Linked DNA regions of Homo sapiens. The protein of the gene in region 1 purifies or fractionates together with the protein of each later gene. This does not show direct contact. Each region holds a gene or a part of one and is shown on either strand. Other genes may lie near its edges.

Evidence for each region.
Region 2: the proteins of JAZF1 (region 1) and DDI2 purify together in Homo sapiens (affinity purification with mass spectrometry; one large-scale study listed by BioGRID and IntAct). This does not show direct contact.

What each region holds. Positions count from the first base shown.
Region 1 is NC_000007.14:27,894,296-27,897,795, forward strand, and holds part of JAZF1 (juxtaposed with another zinc finger protein 1), read right to left. Parts: intron 1,122-3,500; coding exon 925-1,121; intron 1-924. UniProt on the Homo sapiens protein: Acts as a transcriptional corepressor of orphan nuclear receptor NR2C2. Inhibits expression of the gluconeogenesis enzyme PCK2 through inhibition of NR2C2 activity.
Region 2 is NC_000001.11:15,651,958-15,655,457, reverse strand, and holds part of DDI2 (protein DDI1 homolog 2), read right to left. Parts: intron 1-3,500. UniProt on the Homo sapiens protein: Aspartic protease that mediates the cleavage of NFE2L1/NRF1 at 'Leu-104', thereby promoting release of NFE2L1/NRF1 from the endoplasmic reticulum membrane.

The DNA of each region.
Region 1 (3,500 bases):
GTGCTGTGATTATACATGTGAGCCACAGCACCCAGCTGAAGTTCTAGTTTCTTGAGACATGTAAGTCTACCAAGGTTTTCTTACTAATATTTTCTTTTAAACAACTGAACTTTGTCTTCAGATTATTATAGGCTAATCCTAATGTGGAACTGAGGATAAAGTTTTGAGCAGAGTTGATCCAAATCAATGAAGATGGTACCCTTAAAAGGACAGAAGCCTCTTTAAGGCGAGGACCTGGAGGAGAGCAGATGAGAGTGCTGGAGTAGTGCACATCCACATGTGTGTCAGGGAGACTGACGGGAAAGAGAAGGCAAATAGGAGAGATGGACTGGGAAAAATAAAATGGATTACTTGATTGGTGAATAGGTGGGTATAAAGAAGCAAATGAAAAAGCTAAATTGAAGGGCAAGTTTCCACTATCTATAGAAAAAGCTGGAGAAGACAAGGACTCCCCCTTCTTCTCAAGGTGTTGTAAAAACAATGAAGTCTCCTTGGAAGAAAAATTATATCTAAATTTCTCCAAGACTGCTTAATAAATTATGTTTTCTCTAAAGGATACAATTATTTTAACTGTTTTACAAGAGAAAACGTTCATAATATATTTAGTTGTAAATCGGGTGATGAAATATGTATTACAGAGCCCATTAAAAATGTTGTGTAGATGGGTATGCATGGTAAAAATGGGAAATATATTGACAAAAAATCTACAAAACCATTATCACATGCATATTAACAATAATCTATAAATATTTCTTCAATAATAAATTAAAGAATTTATCAATATGTAGACTAGTGAAAGGATCAACGATGTGGTGGGTCTGTGTCGTCATCTGTCCCCAGCCCCTTTCTGCCCCCAGCACATCACACACACTTTCTCTTTCTCCCCTCTCCTCCTTCTCAAGGCGGTAGGGCCAGGCCACTCACCTGTCGGAGTGCTGCTGCGGAATGAAGAGGAGGGGGTGATGGGTGGGGTCACGGGGGGAGTAAGGCTTCCACTGCTGTGGCGTGGGGGAGTGGACACATTCCCTCGAGACACTGAGCTGGACAGAGTCAGCGAGAGCTTCGGCTGAATCTTCTTCTTTAGGGACTCCTGCTCTCGGCGGGCAGCATCTGTCATGAATCTGAAACAATAATGGAAGGTAAGGAACCTGGGCCATGTATAGAGCATGAGGACTGATGACATTTATTAGAGTTTCAGACATGCACGACCCTGGAAAAGGACCTTGGCCACAGGTCAGTCCCAATCTCAAAAACTCACAACAGCTTCCCTTTTCCAATGCAATGGAATTATCTTCTAGCTTGTTATTTTTAAGGTTTCTCAAAGTCAGGTCCATTTCTTACCCAGCAAATCCTCCTTGCCAGGAAGCTTATACACACAGAATACATCTGCACCCACTGTAATACTTTCAGTTACAAGACTTCCTCTCTTGGAAGGTCTGCTCTCTTTTTCTACCCATAGGAAGCCCACACATCCTCAAAGTTCCCCAACCACTCCTAAGTAGACAGTGCTTCCTTTATCTGCAGGTTGGCAGTATTTCTTCTTTGTACCACTTAACTGCCATCTAACATAAATGGCCTCATGAAAACTTTTTTTTTTAAATTTTTTGGTATTACTTTGATTCTCATATTGTTATTTGGGTTTAAAAACTTTTCTTGGCTAATTGAGTCCTTGCTTCCCTAGTCATGAAGGCAAGGATTCTAGTCCCCAGTTCCTAGCACAGGGCCAGGCCCACCTCAGGAAACACAGACAGAACTGCATACATCTGCCCAGGAAGATTCCAGAAGAAGGGAAGAGAGCAGCACAAGGAAGGAGGTCACCACTGATGATTTGTTTATGTTCTAATTTTATTACTCATAAAGAGAAAGGTGACTTTTCCTGATAGTTTCACTTTGGAAACTTCAGTTATTCTTCCAGTGCTTCTCTGATGTTGGTAATATTCAAACTTTGTTCTTTTCTCACTGTATAATCTACCATTTTGTAAATTCCTGTAATATGAGATTCAAAACAATCTATGAAATGGTATCTCCTACCTAAAGAACATTCACCTTTTCATATTGGCAGGCAAACTTTGTCAGCTGCATTTTTGAAAATTGCCATAGAAAGCATAGTCCATAAATGTATGATAGCGTTCAGATGATAAAACCACAGCTGTCCCCACCACCTAGGCTAAGAAACAGAACATTCCATGCCCCCCAAGGCCTCTCTCCAACACCTCCCGCATCAATTATATTTTGACTATTTCAATATAATTTATCATAAGCTCACTGCATTGCACTTAAACATGGTATTTCACCTAACCTATTTCACATTTTGTCTACAAAATTCCTTAGTATTTTTCCTCACTACACAATGAAGTTTTGGAAGTCAACAGATAGTTCTAATACCTGGCGAAAGCTTGAAGTCAATTAAACACCCAATGAAACAACAGTAATACTGTTACGCTGTCTTAAAATTTCTATTTTTATACTTGGAACATGGATGGCACATTTCTTGAATGGTTCTTGCAATATAATCCAGATATATAAACTGGATTTTATATGCTGAACTGAGCTTAGTAATAAAGCTTTGCCTTGAGCTCTTAGGTTTTGTGCTATAGGATAGTGATGATTTAAAAAGAAGAAAGGAATGTCAAGGCAAAAGAGAATTGTTTGCACCTGGTAGCCAGGTAGGTACTCATTTATCTTCAGATGCAAAACTGGTTCTATTGTCCTTAAACTTCTTTCCCTCCGCCTCATAAACCTCTACTAAAAATACAGACTCACAGAGAAAAGCAAAGAACTAGTGCTTTTTTTTTTATTATCCTAAGAAGAACTGCTAACTATCATGGTGCTGAGCTTCTCACACTGGGGTATGCAGTGCGCCAGGGAGTGGCAAAGCCACAGGATAAACAGGCTGCTGCTTCCAGGAAGGCCGATTGTTCTCGAGGGTTAAGTAATTCAAACTAGTGTTTCAAATAGCAAAATAAACACGGACATGCTTATGGGGGTAGAAAAAAATGTTTACATCTTGCATTTTAGTTAAGAGCATGGTATTTGGAGTCAGGCCGGGGTTCAAATCCTGGCTGGGTTATTATGTAATTTGAGGCAAGTTGATAAACTTCTCTGAATCTCAGGTTTATTCTCTGTAAAATGGGAATGAGAGTAGGTAAGGAATTAACGTACGTCTTTTCCCTTTCTACACGGGAGTCTGATCTTTGGCTACATTTGGTAACCTGCTAAAAGAGTGTGTCAACTATGTTACTAGGCAACACTATCTACGTAAGAATGACCTCTGACTGGTGAACTGCACAGCCTGGAGGATCTAGGAACCTGTAGCTATCTGATAGGAAGCCAAGAATCCTGATTTGGACTTCCCGAGCGTGGTGATCTTGTAGCTGGGCATGGCCCTTGCACAGAATGGGGAGCTATGCCCAGAGCGTGTTTCAAGAGCTTTGGCTCCTATGGGGCGTGAGGCTCTTCTACCAGGATAGCTTCCACTCCTACCTCTCTGCACCTGAACA
Region 2 (3,500 bases), on another chromosome or scaffold:
TTTAGAAACAAGTGTTTTGCCATGCTGCCCAGGCTGGTCTCAAATCCATAGGTTCAAGTGATCTCCCCACCTCAGCCTCCCAAAGTGTTGGGACCACAGGCATGAGCCACCATGCTTGGCCAGAAAGAAGTTGTTAACAAAATACTTTCACCTACTATGTCCAGAGTATTTATTCGGATGATATTAGGAAGTCGATGTTCTAAATAAAAAGGACCTGATATGTAGAATTATTTCATTACTTAAACATTACAAAAATTAGCACAAGCTATACTACCAGCAACAAAAGGTTATTTAGGTAAAAAGCCATTTCTTTTTAATTCTTTGAAGTTGGTACATCCCCTTCACTAAGCCTGGAAACATATGTGTATCTGTTTTAATCTTCCAAACTTTTACTAAAATAAGGTAATTACCAAAAAAGGATAACTGTTATTAGTAGGTTAGAAAACACTGCTATTATCAGCTAATGTTTCTTAAATAATGGCACCAAGACTGTGGAGGTTAAAAGGAAAAAAAAAAAAAAGACATTTCATAAAATGATAATATATCCTCATATTAACACACAGCATCACGACTAAGATGATAAATTACACCCCAAATGCAAAACCTTGTAAGGAGCTATGTCAAATTCATTCAAGCTTACCTTGCAGGTAAGATTAAAACTATTAAGTTAGTCTCTGTCTGGTTGTTCAAAATTCCTCCCTTCCTACAAAATACTTAAGTTACAACCAAAACTGTAGTTAATATAAAAACTTGAGCCAAAAAGTGATGGGAGTCAATTCTGTTGTTTTTTTTTTTTTTTTGGACACAGGATCTCACTCTGTCACCCAGGCTGGATTGCAGTGGCAGCGATGATGGCTCACAGCAGCCTTGACCTCCTGGGCTTAGGTGATCCTCCCATCTCAGCCTCTCAAACAGCTGAGACCATAGGCGCGCCACCATGGCTGGCTAATTTTTTTTTTAAATTTCTTGTAGAAACAAAGACTCACTATGTTGCCCAGGCTGGTTTCAAATTCCCAGGCTCAAGTGGTCGTCCTGCCTTGGCCTACCAAAGTACTGGGATCACAGGCATAAGCCACCACGCCCTGACTCAAACTGTACTTTATACATAAAACTAAGCCAAAAGGTGATGGAGTTGATTCTGAACAAAGTCAACCTGGAAAACTCCATCTGCCACCCACACCCATTCTAAAGCTCAATGACAGACATCTGAATGTTCTCCAGTAAAACAGTGGCAAAAGCTGCCTGGCTGTTTTTAAAACTCTTACCACTTTCGTCTTTAGGATAAAGCTATTCCCTGAACTTGTAACTCTTAATAATTTACTGTACTAGAAAAAGCAATGTGTGATACTAGTCATACTGATGAATAATGCCAGCACAAGACTGTAAAATAACCCAAACTCAAAAGTAAATTCTATTCAGCTTCTAGAAAATACATCCCAGAGTCACCGTTCTATAATAAATGGGGGATTTCAGCAAAACTGTTACCCCATTTTACCTAGAAAACTTAGCTCCATCATTACATTTAAACAAGCTAAATAACTGAGACTTAGAAAAAAGTATTAGGTAGCATGATTTCAATATATACAGTGCTAATATGGCCTGATGACAATACTGTAATCTCACACCATAACACTGCATTTTCAGTAACGTTCAATTATGCTGGTCAGGCATGGTGTCTCGTTCCTATAATCCTGTCATTTTGAGAGGCTGAGGCGGGTGGATTGCTTGAGCCCAGGAGTTCAAGACCAGCCTGGGCAACATGGCAAAACCTCATCTTTACAAAAAATACAGAAATTAGCTGGACATGGTAGCAGGCACCTGTAGTCATAGCTAGTCAGGAAGGGGAGATGGGAGGATCAGTCTGGGTGACAGAGTAAGACCTTGTCTCAAAAAAAAATTTTTTTTTTAATTAAGTAAATAAAAATTTATACTTCTTTTTGTTGGTTCTTCTGTCTTCGGTGAAGTTAGGGCTGCTCACACACAGTAGCAATGATACTTTTCAAAATAAACCAGGCCTAAGAGGCATGGTGGCTCATGCCTGTAATACTTTGGGAGGCGGAGGCGAGAGGATCTGCTTGAGCCTGTGAGACTGAGACTGAGGCTGCAGTGAGCCATGGCTGCGCCACTGCACTCCAGCATGGGCAGCAGAGCAAGACTCTGTCTATATAAATAAAATAAAATAAAATAAATAAAATAAAATAAAACAGTCCTAAGAAAAGGAAAGAAATAGGGAAATACTGTTGGACTCAAAAGTTAACATCTGCTTACTGTCAAAATTTTCTTTAGGAAAATCACAAAAACAAAAACATCCAAAAAAAACTTCCTAAAAAAATTTAGGAAGCTTCTAAAATGTGTCTAAGCAAAATAACCCCAATCTATCTTAAACACAGCAATGGACTGAGCTGTTCTTAATCTGTTGAAATACTAAAAAACAGAATGTTTCTCTTTTTTATGAGATAGTGTCTCACTCTGTTGCCCAGGCTAGAGTGCAGTGGTGCCATCTTGACTCACTGCAACCTCCGCCTCCCAAGTTCAAGCAATTCTCCTGCCTCAGCCTCCCAAGTAACTGGGGTTACGGGGGGTGTGCCACTGCACCCTGCTAATTTTTTTTTAATTTTTATTATTATTTTTTTTTGAGATGGAGTCTCGCTCTCTTACCCAGGCTGGAGTGCAGTGGTGCGATCTCAGCTCACTGCAAGCTCCGCCCCCTGGGTTTATGTCATTCTCCTGCCTCAGCCTCCTGAGTAGCTGGGAATACAGGCGCCTACCACTACGCCCGGCTAATTTTTTGTATATTTAGTAGAGACGGGGTTTCACCGTGTTAGCCAGGATGGTCTCCATCTCCTGACCTCGTGATCCACCTGCCTCAGCCTCCCAAAGTGCTGGGATTACAGGCGTGAGCCACCGCGCCTGGCCAATTTTTATATTTTTAGTAGAGATGGGGTTTCACCATGACCAGGCTGGTCTCAAACTCCTGACCTCAGGTGATCCGCCCCCCCCCCCCCCCCTCCGGAGCCTCCCAAAGTGCTGGGATTAACAGGCGTGAGCCACCACGCCGGGCCAGAATACAGACTTTTTCATTATTGTATTAAGAGATGGGGTTTGGATATGGTAGCTCACACCTGTAATCCCAGCACTTCGGGAGGCCAAGGCAGGAGGACTGCTTGAGCCCAGGAGTTGGAGATAGGCCTGGACAACACAGCAAGACCCTATCTCTGCTAAAAATAAAAAATTAGCCAGGTGTAGTCCCAGCTACTCAGGAGGCTGAGGTGAGAGGACTGCTTGAGCCCAGGAAGTCAAGGGTGCAGTGAACTACAATCATGTCACACTGCACACTGCACTCCAACCTGGGTGACAGAGTGAGACAATGTCTCCAAAAAAAAAAAAAAAAAAAAAAAAGGAAGATCAAAGAAGGAGGTTAAGAAGACAAATAATGAACACATCTACTACTGGACCATGAGACTAATTAAAAACTGGAAAGGTTCCTACCCCTTCTGAAG